Linked DNA regions of Homo sapiens: region 2 is linked to region 1. The links come from fine-mapping of genetic effects on gene expression. A gene starts in region 1. The other region holds a variant in brackets. All regions are shown on one strand. Distances are from middle to middle.

What was found.
Region 2: its variant is fine-mapped to the expression of CELSR1 in whole blood (INTERVAL, PIP above 0.99).

Annotation. Positions count from the first base shown.
Region 1 is chr22:46,532,726-46,541,042 of GRCh38, forward strand. It overlaps CELSR1 (cadherin EGF LAG seven-pass G-type receptor 1), which reads right to left and starts at 4,895. Exons shown (of 35, transcript NM_001378328.1): 1 at 902-4,895. The coding sequence starts at 4,445.
Region 2 is chr22:46,362,805-46,371,121 of GRCh38, forward strand. CELSR1 (cadherin EGF LAG seven-pass G-type receptor 1) reads right to left here. Exons shown (of 35, transcript NM_001378328.1): 26 at 6,888-7,000; 27 at 6,375-6,454; 28 at 4,925-5,051; 29 at 4,189-4,314; 30 at 3,582-3,676; 31 at 2,782-2,885; 32 at 2,427-2,576; 33 at 1,708-1,932; 34 at 1,192-1,447; 35 at 1-443. The coding sequence ends at 419. Among named protein-coding and RNA genes, the nearest start is that of TRMU, 31 kb to the left of the region's middle. RefSeq lists enhancers at 1-19, 5,102-5,161. The variant G/A (reference allele first, on the strand shown) is at 4,801.

The DNA of each region.
Region 1 (8,317 bases):
CAAAGAGCCACTGGGGGACCTTTACTGTTCCCCCAGGCCCCTCGAAGTTCTTCTCTCTCTTCTGTGTCTCCCAATTCCAACACTTTCTATTAGTCCCCCTCCCCAGCACCGCAGACCAGCCCCGGCACACAGGGTCAGAGGCATAGAGGACCGGCCAAACTTCTGACTGCTGAGCCAAGGTTTCCTCTCCCTCCTGTTCACCTCCAGCCCCAGAGCAGGTGAGCGAGGTGCCCACACTGGCTCCACCACTAACTGGGCAGGCCTCTTCAACAGCACCCAAATTACAAGCCCGCATCCAGGAGCAGAAGCCAAGATCAAATGAGGCTATGCTTTTCAAAGAGCTTGCACAAAGCCCTACACACCTAAGCCCGACTGTTATTATCTGCAGGAGACAGAAAAGCCAGACCAAGGGAACACCGGCTGCATTATAGGGTGACTCAGGGACCCATCTGACAATTCCAACGGTCCCACCCTGGAATTAATTGGCACTGGGAAGGGGCAGTGACCTCTGATCTTCCCAGAGAGCCCTGTGGCTGGCTGACGAAAGAGCATCTCCAAGCAAATCCTGTGACCCAGATCACCTGGAGGCCACTTTTTAATAGCTGTACTCAGGAGCCACTAGCCTGCTGAGGAAGGCGCTGATCCCCGGTCTTGAACTTGGGAGAACCGCAGGCCTGCTCCCAGGAAAATGCTGACGGAAGCGGCGCGGTGCCTCTCCCCCTCGCTGGGCCTAGGCCGGGCGCCCACCCCCAGCATCCAACCGGCGGCAACAAATCCTTGCAGAGTTGCCCGGGCCCGGCCCAATTGCGCCCCGGCATGCCAGGCGGAGCCCTTGGCGGGTTCCTGAGGCTCTCCAGGAGGCCCATCAGGAGCTACTCCTCCCACCCCGACGGCCACTCACCAGACACAGACACCTCCATGAGCGCCTCCAGCGGCCGGTTGTTGTCCAGGTCGCGGCTGAGCTGCAGTTCGCCCGTGGCGGGGTCCAGCAGCAACAGGCGCAGCTCGTTGCCCTGCACGAAGGTGTAGTTGAGGCTGTCTGACACGTCGGGGTCATGGGCCGGGATGCAGCCGATCACGCCGGTGGGGAAACTGTTGGACTTGTTGGTGACATAGTTGTTGAAGAGGATCTGGAAGTCGGGCAGCACAGGCGGGTTGTCATTCTGGTCCACGAGAAGGATGTGCACCGTGGCTCGGCTCACCAGCGGAGCCGACGTGGCCTGCACCACCAGCACATACTCCCGCCGGACCTCAAAGTCCAGCTCCACCATGGCACGCAGGTCCCCGTTGAGCAGGTCCAGCTGGAAGAAATGCCGCATGTCCCCTTCCACAATCTGATACATGATCTGGGCATTAGGGCCTTCATCAGGGTCGTTAGCACGAATCTTTGCCACCACCGACCCCACTGGGTTGTTCTCCTCAACAAACAGCTCCAGTTCGTCCTTCTCAAACATGGGGGCATTGTCATTAATGTCCAAGATGGTCACCTGGATTTCTACCGAGGCGCTAAGGGGAGTGGGACTGCCCCGATCCACAGCCAGAGCCCAAAGGTTGTACACGGCCACATTCTCCCGGTCCAGCCGGCGCTGGGTGCGAATCACACCGGACGTGGGCTCGATGTAGAAGTCCCCATCGCCGTCGTCCCCACCCTGGAAGGTGTACAGCAGACGCCCATTGGGACCTGAGTCCCGGTCCGTGGCAGAGACCTGGAGGATGCTGGTCGAGGGTGGAGCATCCTCAAAGATGGAACCCTGGTAGAAATCCCACAGGAACTGGGGTGCATTGTCATTGGCATCGAGGATGAGGATCTCTAGGGTGGTGGTGTCTGATTTCTGCGGGATGCCGTTGTCCTGGGCCATGATGGTCAGCGTGTAGGCGACCTGGTTCTCATAGTCCAGCTCCATCATGGTGTACATGGTGCCACTGTCGGGGTCAATGCGGAACTGCGGCACGGGGTCCTGAATCACGTAGGTGATGCGGGCATTCTCTCCTGTGTCCTCATCGTTGGCACTGAGGGTAGCAATGGAGGTGCCCACAGGCCTGTCCTCACTGACACTCACTGTGTAATGGGAGCTCTGAAAGACAGGCCTGTGGGTGTTGGCATCAGTGACGTTGATTAGGACATGCGCAGTGTGCGACCGTGTGCCGTCGGATGCTGTCACCGCCAGCACGTACTGCTGCTCCTGCTTGTAGTCCAGAGGTAGCGCCAGGGTGATGAGGCCGCCCCCTCTCTGGCTGCTGAGTGCAAAGCGGTTCCGGGTGTTGCCGCCTGTGAGCTGGTAGGTAATCACACTGTTGGCGTCACGGTCGCGGGCCTGCAGGGTCAGCACGCTGCTCCCCACGGCCGCATCCTCATTCAGACGAAGCTCGTAGGTGGGCTGCGTGAACACCGGGTCGTTGTCATTCACGTCCAGCACCGTGATGGACACGCTGGTGGAGGAGCTCATGGGGGGCGAGCCGTGGTCCACCGCCTCCACCCCGAAGCTGTAGTGCTCCACCTCCTCGCGGTCCAGCTCGGCACACACTGTGATCCAACCGGAGCTGTTGTGGATCTGGAAGGGGAAGTCAGGGGTGGGGGCAGGATTCTTAGGCCCAGCGCTGCCGCCCCCCAGAAAGGTGGAGGCCGTGTCCACCAGGCGATAGTGCAGCCGGGCGTTCTCTCCAGAGTCCGCGTCCACCGCCTGAATGTGCACCACGGGGTAGCCCAGGGGCACATTCTCCAGCACCGTGGCCTGGAAGGGGCTGCTCACAAAGATAGGCTCGTTGTCGTTGACATCCAGCACCTGCACAGACACCACCCCTGAAGAATTGATGAGCGGGGGCCGGCCCCCATCCTGGGCCTTAATGCTCAGCGAGTATTTCTGGACATCCTCGAAATCCAAGGGGTTGATCACATCCAGGATCCCGCTCAGCGAGTGCAGGTAGAACTGGCCGGCCACGTTCCCGCTGAGGATGCTGTAGTGAATGGCCGCGTTCTGGCCCTGGTCCCGGTCCGTGGCCTGCACTCGCAGCACAGCCGTGTTGAGCCCCACGTCCTCGGGCACCTGGACCACGTAGTTCTGCTCGCTGAACTGGGGGTAGTTGTCGTTCTCGTCCTCCACCTCGATGTACACGGTGGCCGTGGCACTGAGCGGGCCCGGATTGCGCCCCTGGTCGTTGGCCTCCACCAGGAGCTGGTACTCGGCCGCCTCCTCCCGGTCCAGCACCGCCCGTGTGCTCACCACGCCAGAGCTCTCGTTGAGCTGGAAGACGTCCCACGCGCCCCCCAACACGCGGTAACGCAAGTTGGCGTTGATGGGCGAGTCGCGGTCGCTGGCGCGGATGGTCAGCACCTCGTAGCCCACCTCCAGGTTCTCCCGCACGCGCTCGCGGTACTCCGACTGCTCGAAGACCGGGCTGTGGTCGTTGGTGTCTTTGACCAAGACAGTGATGTAGGTGGTGGCCGAGCGCGGCGGCGTACTGTAGTCCACGGCTTTCACCCTGAGGACGTGCGTCTCCTTGGTCTCGCGGTCCAGTACGCTGTCCGTGCTCACGGCGCCCGTGGCAGAGTCGATTCGGAAGTAGCCCCGGGAGCGCTCGTCGAACAGCCCCTCCATGTAATAGCTCACGCGCTCCTCCTCGCCCTCGATGGTGTAGTGCGCGTGCAGCTGGAGGATGAGGGTGCCCGCCGGTTCGTTCTCAAACAACGCCACCTGGTAGTTGGGCATCGGAAACTTCAGGCTCCCTCTGCCGCTCGTGCCCCGCCGGGCCCGTCGCGCCGGCCCCGCCCGGGCTTCGGGCAAGTTCGGCGGCAGGGGCGGCGATGGGGATGGCGACGCGGAGGGCGTCCCCGCGGTGGCGGCCTCCAGCGCCAGTCCCACCCGGACGGCGCCAGCCGCGCGCCGCAGGGCGCACAGCAGACGCAGGCGGACCGAGCCGCCCGGCGGCAGGCAGATGGGACGGCCGGGACAGCGGGGCCTGGGGCGCGGCGGGCAGCGGCAGGCGGGTAAGGTGGTCGGAGCTGCGAGCGCCGAATGCTGCGCGGCCGCGCAGCCGCCGGGGACGGGGAAGCAGAGCGCCCCGCAGAGCCGGGCACCGGTTCCGCAGAGCCGGGCACGGGCTCCGCAGCCGGGAAGGTGCGTGCGCGCCCGCAGGCGGCGGCTCAGCGCCGTCGGGGCACTGCGGGCCACCAAGCGGACTTGCAGCGGCAGCGGGCGCCCCGCGCCCGAGACGCGCCGACGTCCTGCCAGCCGCCCATCGCGGCCCACGTCCAGCAGCTCCCGCGGCGCCCGGGGCGTGCAAGCGGCGCCCACCGCGTAGGTACAGCCGGGCCGGAGGGCGAAGGCGCGGGTCCCGCCGGGTACGCGCGGCTCCCAGGCGGCCGCTCGCAGCCCCATCGCCGGCAGGGCGGCGGCGGCGGCCAGGAGCAGCAGCACGGGCAGCACGGGCGGCGGCGGCGGCGCCATGGCCCGGAGCCCGAGCCCGAGCCGGGCGCCCGAACACAATCCATGCACCCGGCGCGCCTCCGCATCCACCCGGCGAGGCCGGGGAGCGGCTCCCGGGCGCCCGGCCCTCGGGGCGGTCCGCGTCCCGCCTCCCCGGGGGCCCTGGCGGGGACTGTGGGGACCACGCGCCCGGCCTCCCCCGCAGCTTCCACTTCGAGAGCACTTTGCGAAAGTTTGCGAAGTTGGTTTCAAGATGGCTCCTCCGCGCGTCCCGGGAGGGCGCCGCGCATCAACCTGCGGCGGCGGCGGCGGCTCCAGGCGGCTCCAGGTGGCTCCGGCGCGGGCTCGGCCGGACGGGCGTGGGAAGCGGGGCGGGCCCGGCGCGGGGCGGGGGCTGAGTTCCCGGAGCGGGCTGGGCAGCTCCGCGCCGCGCAGACCCCGGCGGCCGGCTGCTGCCTGGGCGGTGCGCTTGGCCCGCGCCCACTCCGCCCGCGCTCTCCCCGCCCCCGGCCCGGCCCCGCCCCGCCCCCGGCCCAGCGGCGTATTGTTCGGCCCCGGGGGGAGCCGGCTCGGAGGTGCGCGCCGAGAGGATCGCTATGGAGACGCGAGGGCGCGGCCGGGACGGGGACTGGGGCCCTACTCCCCGGAGGCCTCCCCACCCAGCCTCCCGGTGGGGCGGGGCCGAGGCAACAGGGCCGGGAAAGGTGGGGCTGGGGCCCCCGGTGGCCGCTACCCGTGGGGCGGTGGCTCCGCACCTCGGGCTCGGGGCCGCGGCTCAGAGCCTGGCTCCCCACCCCGGCAGAACAGATCCACGGAGACCGCCGCCAGGAGTGCCGCGCGGGTAGGACCCGGGGGCGGAGGACTGGGGCCGAGAGGCCGGGGAGCCCCCCCCCACCCATTAAGGACTGCGGAGGCTGTCGAGGAGGGTTACCCATTTTACAGCAAGACGCACGGAGGCTAAAATGCTTCACCCCGACTAAAACTCCCTGGACTTTGAAGCCCAATAGGCAGCTACCGGATCTGCGTCCCACTTGGTTTAAAGCGCAACTTTTAAATGAAAGAAGAAAACCCCGGTTGACATAAGGGATTTGGAGAGGACGGCGGAGGCGCGCTCATCTCCCGCGTGCGGCCCGACCCGAGCGTTCGCGGACGCATCGCGGAATCCCCGAGCGTCCGGCTCCTCCCGAAGCGGGTTGCGGGGAAGGCGGGGGGCTGCGGGTCCTGGAAGCTGCCTGGGGCAAGCAAGCACCCGCAGGGATTTAGAGCTGTGCCACAGCCCCTGCCCAGCCTCCTACGGAGGACAGCGGGGGGCGGGGGGCAGAGACCTTAGAGCTTTCAGAAAAGTGACACACACCCCCGCCTCCTGCGGGGAACCACGGGGGGCCGGGGGCAGCTTTAGGTTTGCGTGACGGGTACACCTGCCTCCGGATGGGGCACAGGGATAAAGGGGGTGGAGGCTTAGGACTTGGCGACCCCCCGCATGGGCGGGGCTTTGGGACTGTGCCACCAGCGGCTGGGAAGGGCGCGCACTCCCTTGGTGGCGCTCGGGGCGCCGGAGTCCAGTGCAGCCCTTAGGCCTCCCAGTGGTCGGGGACGGTAGGTGGGGGTCGCCTCTTCTCTCCTAGAAGGGCTTCTCCTGGGGCCGGTCGGAGCGGTGGGGGTGGGAGTAATGCGCAGTCACCCCTAGAACGGGTCTTTTTGGCAAGGGAGGGTCGGATCCTGCAGCCAAATCTCTGAGCTGAGCTGAGATGAGTCCAGTCTCAACGAGGACCGTGGGCGGCTGTGGAGAACCGGAAGGGTTTCTCCCCCGGAGCGATGTGTCTGTGTGTGTGTCACACGCATACTCAGCCAACTTCGCTCAAAGCTGCTGAAACAGTGTCTTTGTGCTGAAGCCCAATGTGAGCATTTTCTTCCCAGTAGCAAGGATTTGAACACGTTATATTGATCTAAAAGGTGGAGTTGCTTTGGAACCTTTTAATTCGAGGTTTCCACTGGAGAGTCCTGTTGGGAAATGTGTGTGTGGAGGGAGGGGAGGAAGGAGAAAAGTCCGTCTCCTTAATGTGAGCGGTCCAGGACCTCCCCACCCGCCATATACCCTTCCACTGGGATTTTTCCGGGAAGGATGAAAGGACAGGAGTTCTGGGGCCGGAAGGCAGGGCGGGTCCCTGAGCCCGGAGCCTCCCAGTGGAAGGCTACTGGGCGGACCTGAAGGGGACCCAGGCAGGAGGAAAAACCAGAGAACCCCAGGAGTGCCTGTTTTGCAATAAGGCTTTAAGCAGAGTGGGTTGGGTTTAAATAAACAAAACTCAGCTGCAGCCAGTGGGTTCAGGTGTGGGCCTGCTTTTCTGGAATAAGGCACCTGCAGGCTGCGAGGTAACCACAGGGACTGCCCAACACCTAGGGACAGGGGAGGATGGATGAATCTCACTAACAGGATGTCCAGCAAAGACAAAAGATCATTCCATTCACGCTTAGACCGACAGCAAGCCCGACTCCACCATAACGTTTAGAGGTGTGCACAAATAGGGGAAAGATGAAGAAAAACAAGGAGGTGATTATGGGCACATTCAGGAGGGCTCTGGGGGAGGAGGGGCATCCCCTTCTGGACCTGAGGGTTACCAGAGTGTCGGCTTCATGATCACACTTTGAACTCCAAACACATGATTTGCGTACTTTTCCCTATGCCTGCATCTAGAGTCGGCAGTTTTTGTTTTTTTTTGTTTTGTTTTGTTTTGTTTTGTTTTGTTTTTTTGAGACAGAGTTTCACTGTTGTTGCCCAGGCTGGAGTGCAATGGCACGATCTCAGCTTACCACAACCTCCGCCTTCCAGGTTCAAGCAATTCTGCCTCAGCCTCCCTAGTAGCTGGGATTACAGGCGTGCGCCTCACGCCCGGCTAATTTTGTATTTTCAGTAGAGACGGGGTTTCTCCATGTTGGTCAGGCTGGTCTCGAACTCCCAACCTCGTGATCCGCCCACCTCGGCCTCCCAAAGTGCTGGGATTACAGGCATGAGCCACCGTGCCTGGCCTATTTTTATTTATTGCTAAATAGAGATGGGGTCTTGCTATGTTGCCTAGGTTGATCTCAAACTTCTGGGCTCAAGAGATCCTCCCACTTCAGCCTCTCAAAGTGCTAGGATTACAGGTATGAGCCACCACACCCTATTTAGAGTCCACAGTTTTATTTTATTTTACTTTATTTATTTTTGAGACGGAGTTTTGCTCTCTCACCTAGGCTGGAGGACAGTGGCGCGATCTCAGCTCAATGCAACCTCCACCTCCTGGGTTCAAGCAATTCTCCTGCCTCAGCCTCCAGAGTAGCTGGGATTATAGGCACACACCACCAGTCCTGACTAATGTGTGTATGTTTAGTAGAGACGGTTTCGCCATGTTGACCAGGCTGGTCTGGAACTCCTGACCTCAGGTGATCCACCCACCTCAGCCTCCCAAAGTGCTGGGATTACAGGCATGAGCCACCGCGCCGGGCCTAGAATCCACAATTTTAAGTAAGTGGGGAGGGGAGAGGGACTAACAAGACGGAGGCCGCAGCTTGTGCTGAGACGGCCAGGTGGTCCGGCCGCATCAGAAATCACGAGTTTGGAATGACTGGCACCTTCGAGGGGTTGAGCTTTAATTCTGCCACTAACTAGTTGTGTGACCTTCGCCAAGGCCTAACTCCTTGTTCTAACTGGACACAATAGTCCTAGACTCCTAGCGTTGTTGAAGGATTAACAAGACAATCTGTGTGAAGCGGTCGGCACAGGGTCTGGCTCAGGCATGGATCTGCCAGTAATAGCATTTACTATTTTCACAGTTGCTGTTTCCTAGCATGAGTTCAAGGCTGCCTCCTCTCTGTCTTCATTATGTGAATTGAATGTGGTCACACATCTGTGT
Region 2 (8,317 bases), 170 kb before region 1:
ATGAGATGCCCGCCTGGGCGGGGCTGGACCGCGGTCTTTGGTCTGTGCCCGGCGTTCCTGAACTCTGGCCAGCCTCTGGGCCCAGTCTGGGGTCCCCTCTCAGTTCTGGCTTTGACTGCAGTCTTAGGACTCAGCGGTGCTGGCCCAGTGGTCCACGCCTCCCTCATGCCTGTGGCCTTTGGCACTTGTCACCAGGTCTGACAGGCCCTGAGCTCCTGGGAGAACCAAGACCTTTGTGTCTGGATGATCAGTCGGGGGGCTGCCACCATGGGGACCGCCACACTCTGGGCCCACTCCACTTCAAGGGCAGTGGCCCCTTGGGCTCCAAGGTCTGAGGGTGATGCCGCAGCCTGTGTGGGGTGACGGGCTTGCCTCACGGTTTCCTGATGGTTCAAATTGAAGTTTCATTACTGATGGTTCAAATTGAAGTTTCATTACTGCCTCTGCGCGTGGGAAGAAGCCAGCAAGCAGGTGAAGGGTCAGTGAGGGTAGCGGCTTGGTGGGGCCCAAGGTTGTCACACGGGGGGGCAGGATCACCCCATCAGGGTAGAGGGGGCGTCTGGGGGCTCCAGGGAGGGCAAGCTCATGTTGGATGAGGCTGCCCTTGGGAGGCAGGAGAGGGGACCAGGACCAGCCTGTGGGCCTCTGTGTTGCTGGTCTTTCAGAAGAGCGCAAGGAATCCACGTTAGAAACCGGCCATCTCTACAGTGACTTTTGGAAGGGGCATTCTGAAGACCTGGCTTCTCCCTTGTGAGTTTGGAGGGAGGGAGGGGCGACAGGGAGAGGTCTGGGGCCAGGACCCCAGCTCCACCCCGCCCCCTTCACCCCTGGCATTCCGGGACCCTCAGTATCCTCAACTGCAAGGTGGGTGGCAGTGGTCCCAGGCGGAGACAATGCTGATCAAACGCAGAGCCCAGCACCTTAGGTCCTAGCATTTTGGGGCTGGCCAGGGCTTCAGAGTCCCAGAGGCCTGAGACGTGTCCCCAGGATAGGGGGTCTGCCCATCTCCGGGGTATCCTCCTGACCTCAGCTGCAGCGCCTCCCCCCTCCCCCATCCCCGCCTGGGCTTCCTCTGCACTCAGGGCTCCAGGTGAGGTGGGTGTCAGGTCCCTGACCACTGCCCCCTCTCTCTCCTGACTCAGGACAAGGGGGAAGTGGGTGATCCCCGCCCTGGAGGCCCAGGCTACTCACTCAGAGTCGGAGCCATCGGCCTGGGCGCTCCCAGTGCGCACATTCATGGCCACCCCGTTGAGGTGGTCACGCCCCGGCTCCCTCCCAGGGCTCTTGACTGTGATGGCGCAGTCGGGGCCGCCAGAGCCCAGGGAAGACGTGCGCGAGGATGTGGGGCTCTGCTCACAGTCGGCCAGCTTCTCCCGGAGCCGGCCCTTCAGCGTCTGCTCCGTCAGCGTCAGCGGCGGCGGGTAGGTGACTTTATTTTTCAAGATGCCTGGGAGGAGGAGACACGGCAAGGTCAAGTCCGGGTGATGCTGCCGGGGGCAGCTGCTGGGCCGTGTGCAGCTGAGCCAGCCTCAGCCCCTGTCCTTCCTCCTGGTTCCCCGGGTCCCAGGGCTAGGCCAGGAGGCCACGTCTGTTCTGCCCAGGCCCTGACTTGCCCCACCAGCCCCAGCCCCACTCCCACCTCCAGACCAGGGACTGGCCCTTCTGGGTCCTCCAGCCTTTCACTGCAGCCCCGGCCTCCCCAGGCACCTTTCCTCTGCTCTGGGGGCTGGCTGCTAGCAAGCCTGGCTGCGCCCCCGCTCTCCTGGTCCGGGGGGTACTCTCCACGGTGACTGCCCTGCTCCTCGCGGTGCAGCTCCACGCTGACCTTGGTCTCCACCTTCAGGCGGGGCTTGCCGCTGGGGTCCTCACTGTCACTCTCAGCCAGGCTCTGGTCGGGCCAGCCGGCCGGAACGTGGTTGGCCACAGCGTCCCCTGAGGCACGAGAGCGGTGCTCAGCAGGCAGCGGCACTGCCACTCGAGCTGCTCCCTTGAGAGCCATGGGTCTGGTGGCTCTGACCCACCTCTCCCCAACCTGCAGGCCTGGTAGGGCTGAACCCTAAAGGTGGGGAAACTGAGGCCCAGGAGGGCGAGTCCTGGCAGCAGGGCCCTTGTTGGGAGCCCCCGCCGCATCTGTACCAGTAACTATACAGGCTAATCCCCCACTGGCAGCCTCACCTGGACCTTGCGGTGACAGTCCACAGAGACCCCCCTGAGAGTTCCTGCCTCCGCTCAGGGGGTTGGCCTGGAGGAGCCCTCCAGAGGCTGTGGGGGAGCCCAACCAGAGTCCCCCCACCCCAGGCTGTCCTTTCATGTGGCTGCAGTGCTGCTGGGCATATCCTGGGAGGAAGGGACCCAGCCATAGCCAAGGCCTGCCCCGAGCCCGCTGTCCACAGCCCAGCCTGGCCCAATGTGCCCCACACACTCACCTTTGGGGGTGCTGTGGACGGCGCCCCTGGCCGGGTCCCATTTTTCCTCAGCTCCCACCCCATCGTCCTCGCTGTCTGACGAGTGTGAGGAGGCGTAAGAGCTGCTCTGCTCATCCAGGGACAGCTCGCTATCTGAGTCGGAATCGTGGCCTGTGGATGCGCGGGGGACAGGGAGGCTCAGGCCCTGGGAGGTGAGGGAGTCCCACCGAGGGCCAAGCAGAGCCACTGGGCCCCTGGCATGCTGACGCTGAGCATGGCGAGGCTGCTAGTGCTTCTTCAGGGGCAGTCTGTCCAGTGACCGAAGGGACGTGGGAAAAACAACCCACGGGGTCCTCCCCCTCCAGGGAAGCCATACCAGGGGGATCCTTGCAGCTCCTGGGCATGAGGGACGCGTCTGGCTCTCCGTGGCTGCCCCTCACCAGCCCAGAGGACACGCCGAGCTTCTGGATCCCTTCATCCCTAGAGAGGCCAGGGAGGGTGGGCTCAGTATCATCCGTCAGGGAACAGGAGGTGCTGGAAAGTTCTCTGGAAGATTCTCTGCCCCTACCCCTTCTGTGTTCCCAACAACAGCACAGACAAAACAGCCTCCCGAGTATGTGGGGGAAAGGTGGTGGGGGGAAAGGTTGGGTGGGGGGAAGGTGGTGGGTGGAAAGGTTGGGTGGGGGAAGGTGGTGGGGGGAAAGGTTGGGTGGGGGAAGGTGGTGGGGGGAAAGGCTGGGTGGGGGAAAGGTGGTGGGGGGAAAGGCTGGGGGGGAAGGTGGTGGGGGGAAAGGTTGGGGGGAAGGTGCTGGGGGAAAGGTTGGGGGGAAAGGTTGTCAGGGGAAAGGTGGAGGGGGAAGGTGGAGGGGGGAAGGCTGCGGGGGGAAGGTGCAGTGCGGGGAAGGTGCGGGGGGGAAGGTTGCACGGGAAAAGGTTGGTTGGGGGAAGTTGGTGGGGGAAAGGTTGTTGGGGGAAGGTGCAGGGGAAGGGAAGGTGCGAGGCGGGGAGGGAAGGTGCGGGGCAGGGAGGGAAGTTGCGGGTGGGAAGAAGGTGCGGGTGGAAAGTTGGGGGTGGAAGGTGATGTTGGTTGAATGGCAGGACACAGGTTGGGGTGGCAGGGGCAAAACCTGAGGGAGTTCGAGAGCCACCTCCCCGAACCCGGAGCTGCGGCCTGACCTGACGATGCTGTCCAGCGAGGCGGTGGACTCGCCCAAGTCTGTGCGCAGCATGTCAGGCCCGTCACCGAAGGTGGTGTTGCAGTTGAGGGAGCGCTGAAGGGAGGGGAGGGGCTGGTCACTGCCAAGTGGTGGCCACCACATGACCACCACGGGGAATGACTCTGTCCCCACGGCAAGCCCCCCACACCCACACCCTGGCTGGGCCCCTGCCTGGCACACAGGAGGAGCTGGCCCCAAGCAGTCAACCCTCACTGCAAACGAGAGCCTCCTGGCAGCTGAGGGAAGCACATCCTGGCCCGCGCTGTGGTCAGGGGCTGCCGCCCTCCCTACGGCCACTGCTTCTGGTCAGGATCCTCGGTGGTCCTGACCCTCTCTTTCTAAGGCCTGGAAGAGCAGGGTTAGGATGCGACCCAGGCCCCATCTGGCCGATTCTGTCACTTTCTGGTTCTGACGCGGCAGCCACACCGTGCACCGCGGGCGGCTCTGCCATCCCCACCGTGAGGGGCATACGGGCCGCAGGACTGGGGCTGAGGCTCGATCACCCTCCCCCGCCCCTCGAGATGCCGCCCAGCCCCCAGTCCCGCGGTGTCCCCGGCGCCTCCTACCGTCAGCAGGGTGGCCCTGGTGGTGGCGGAGTCCTCCAGGTGCAGCTTCCTCCCGCCGAGCACGCCCTTCAGGTGCTTCCGGACCTCCTGGTTGAGCACGCAGTGGAAAAGGAGGACGAAGGGGCCCTGGAGGGAGGAAGGTGGGGTCAGCACCTGCTGCTGCCTCCCTAGGCACCTGCCCTTAGGCGCCCCAGCACAGATGCGCATACAGCCTTGAGTGCACACAACATGTCCGGCCACACGGCCCAGGACACGGCCAGGCCTCCCCTCCTCAGGGACTGCTGCTATCTGGAGGCCAGGTGGGGGAGCTCAGAAACTGAGATGCCTGGGCCAGACCCCCGGTGTGCTGGAGGCAGTGAGGGCCCCGGCTCAGGCCAGTCTTCTGGGCACTCCTTCCACAGTCCTTGGGGCCCCTCTGGGGTCCCCACTGTGTCGTAAGTCCACTTGCTGTGTGGCCCTTGGTATGACTAGAAATGGCCACTTCTGTTCCCTGGAGACACAAGTGGACTTGTGCTGGCCTGGCACTAGGGTCATCGTCCCCAGACACAGTGGGGAGGAGGCACCAGCCCCCGTGCCGGCTGCACAAGGGACTGAGTCCTCACAGCCACAGGA[G/A]GCCCCCACGCGGGACCCAGGCAGGGCTGGTTTGGGACCGCAGAGGCCTCCACTGCTTCGCATCACAGCGATGGTGTCACGGCGGCCAGGCAGGGGTCCCGCGGGCAACTCGGCCGTCACCTACCTGTAAGCCGCTGAAGATGGCGAAGAGGTAGTGAAAGCTCAGTGCATCGCGGTTCACAGCCAGCAGCCCCAGCAGCCAGGTGGCGCTGATGAGCAGCAGCAGGAGGAATGCGGTCCTCAGCAGGGAGCTGCGGGAGGGCAGGATCAGGCCTGTGCCCATCGCCACCACCTGCTCCCTTCCTCCCTCCCTCTCTGCACGTCCACCTGTCCACCTGCCTGCCCGTCCGCCCATCTATCTGTCCGTCCACCTGTCCACCCAGCCATCATCCACCTTGCTCCCTTCCTCCCCTCGTAGCCAGGTACGGACTCATCCGGGAACCAGACAGAGCTCGTGTTAGTGGGGGTGGTGGTGGAATACATTAGGAAGCAAATGAGAAAACAGGAGCTGTGAGGACTACACCAGGCCAAGGGGCCTGAGCCATGCCCATGGCTGCACTAGCTCCCGTGAGATACCCTGTGGAGAGGCAAGAGGAAGAGCCCAGGACCTGCCCTTGAGCTGTGACCCTGCAATCAGCTTCCTGAGCTCTGCCTCAGTCTCCCCATGTGTACAAGGGGAAGACAAAGGCGCATCCCCTCCCAGGGTTCAGAGGGGATGGAGTGAATCCGGGTGACAGAGCCCGCAAGGTCCACAGGTCGTGGATGGCACTGAAGACGAGGAACTGACAAGGCCCCAGACCCCCCGTGCACCCCCATATCCGGCCTTCCAGGCCACTCACTGCCTCTCCCTCTCTGCCCTACCCCCCTTCAGACTCGGCTCTCTCCTCCCGGGCCGGGAGCCTCACACTCCTCCTGACACCCAGCCCCTGCGCAAGCATTATCCCTTCGCCCATCCCTGGCTCAGTCCCATCTCAGCTACCAGGTCACCAGGGGCTGGCCTTGTTGTCTGACAGATGCCCCCGTCAACCCCTCCTGACCCTGTCGTGGCTCCTGGACGCTGTGCTGAGTCCTCCCGCGGTGCCACCTGCTCCTTTGGGGCCTCGAAGGTCCCCTCTCCTCCCTAGAACACTGGAGGTTCCCTCTGTGCTGGGCCCCTGTTCCACTGCACCCTCTGACAGTGGGGTGGGGGGGTCTCCTCCCCTCCAGTGGCCTCAGCAACACCCTCACCACCCACCAGAAAGTTTCATCTCCCCCACCCCACCCATCTCCACTCTGGGGATTCCAGACAGCCCAATACTTCTGTGCCAGGCGGGAGGGACTGAGGCCCAGGACTGGCTGCCAGCCCCCTCCCTTCAGCTAACCTCCTCCAGCCCCCTCCCCTCAGCTAACCTCCCCCAGCCCCTGCAGGTGCAACGTGGCAAACCTCTCTGGAGCCCTGGGGCTCACCCAGGCTGCCCCCAGCCCTCCTCCATGAGGCCTACACGCTCTCATGGGGCCCCACCCCGCAGAGACTGGACGTCGGGGTCTCAGGGCCCAGCCGACATGGCTGGCCGGTCAGGTTCAGCCCCACTTACACGATCCCTTTTTTCCCATAATAATGGTGCTTTCTTTGGCAGGAAACCTTTGCAGATAGGACAGAAGTGACTGTGTTGATCTGAAAACAAAACAAGCCGATCAATGTCTTCTCTCTCGTCACTGCAGACCTCCAACTGCCAAAAGCGCCTGAGGCCCTTCGCCCTGTCAGGGAGGGGTGGCTGGGTGAGGAGGACCCGAACCCTGGCCTGTGGGGCGAAGCACACCTGTCCACCCACTGCCCCACAGCGCCCACCACACCCAGCCTGCCTGTGCGGGACCCTCCTGGGTGCTGGACGCAGATGGTCTCATGCGGACACGACGCGAGACCTGAATCCACGATCAGAGGGTGAGGTCCGGGAGGGCCCTGGCGGCTTTGCTGACTGTTACAAGGTGGCCCTTCCTGCCCCCCGTCGGCTGCTCAGAGGAGTTGGTGGCCCCAGCCAACCCAGAACAGCCCTTCCAGCTCATGCATGTTTGGGGCACCCGGACTCCCGTGAAGGCCCCACACTCACGATTATAACAGCTCCGATGGGCCCCGCAAAGCTCCAAATCAGGGTGTCTTGAAGCGACAGCCAGCAGAAGTCGGGGTTCCCGTAGCCCTGGGGGTCCAGGCCGACCGCCAGTCCTGAACACAGCGGGGAGGAAGGGAAGGGTGAGGGCCACGTGCCCAGTGGCCACCCCATGCCAAGGACCAGCCAGGGTGGGGTGAAATGGGGGACTCAGCATCTCCCTTCTCAGAGGAAGGAGCAAGGAGTCCAGGGAGCCAGCCCAGGGCCCCTCCAAGCACAGTCTCTCCGTGTAGGGTCTCAGGCTCACTGGCCCAGGTGGCAGGAGCTGCTCCTGGATTGGCCCCATGAGGCAGGGGGCGTATCTGGGCCGGGGGCTGCTGAGGAAGACCAGAGACCCTGGAGGGTGGCAGTGAGATGGTGCAGGAGGGATCGTGAAGGCAGACGGTGCTTGGGAGGACCCTGCCAGCTGGGCCATGTAGAGGTCAGGAGGCCATGATGGACCCAAGGTGCAAGGGATGAGGCTCCAAAACAGATGGAGGACGGCGTCACCTACAGGGCCATATGTGAGCGGGTGAGGAACGCATATACCCCCATACCACATCCAACCACGTGCACATGCCATACACATGTACATACCCTATACACATGCATGCAGACACACATACCGTGTGCAGACACGCATCACAGATATACACACACACCACAGAGGCACACACCATACACACGTGCACACCACACACACACCCCCGAAACTGCCTCACCACCGAGCCTGCTATACGAGCTGCTTGTTTAGATAGAGGAAGAAATGCTCTGAAGCACAGTTGTCACTCCCAGCCACAGTGTGACAAACCAGATCCGCCTGTCCATGCAGAGCATCAAGGTGACACTTGGGACAGGAGCAACCAGCAGGTGAGACCTGGTCTTTCTGTGCCCCTTGCCCCACCCTGGCCTAGGCTATGCTCCTCCCCACTCTCCTTATTTAAATATTGAAGAGATCCCAGCTCCCTCCTGTTTAACACCCTCCAGCACTTCCCACTGCCCTCTGGAGGAGCCAGTTAACCAGGACCACTGAGGACAGTCAGGGAAGCCCTGGATGGCCGGGGGAGGCAGCAGCCAGTGACCAGTGCCTGCAGCTCAGTCTGAGGCTCCCCGGGAGTTATTTTAAGATCTTGTACAAGACAGACCTAAGTGTTAAACAAAACAAACCGAAACCTGTTTTTAAAGCAAGTAGGAAACGTGAACTATCTGGATTTAGAGTCCAAAGGGCAGAGGCATCGCAGAGACCTGCTCCGCCTGGACATCGAGGTGGCTTTTCGACAAAGCCATACGAGCCCCTTTCTAGGCCATGTTCTTCATCTCAGCGTCTCTCACAGTAAGCACCTAATCTAGGCAAGGTATCGCCTCCCTGTCACATCAGGAAGTGGCGGCTGCCA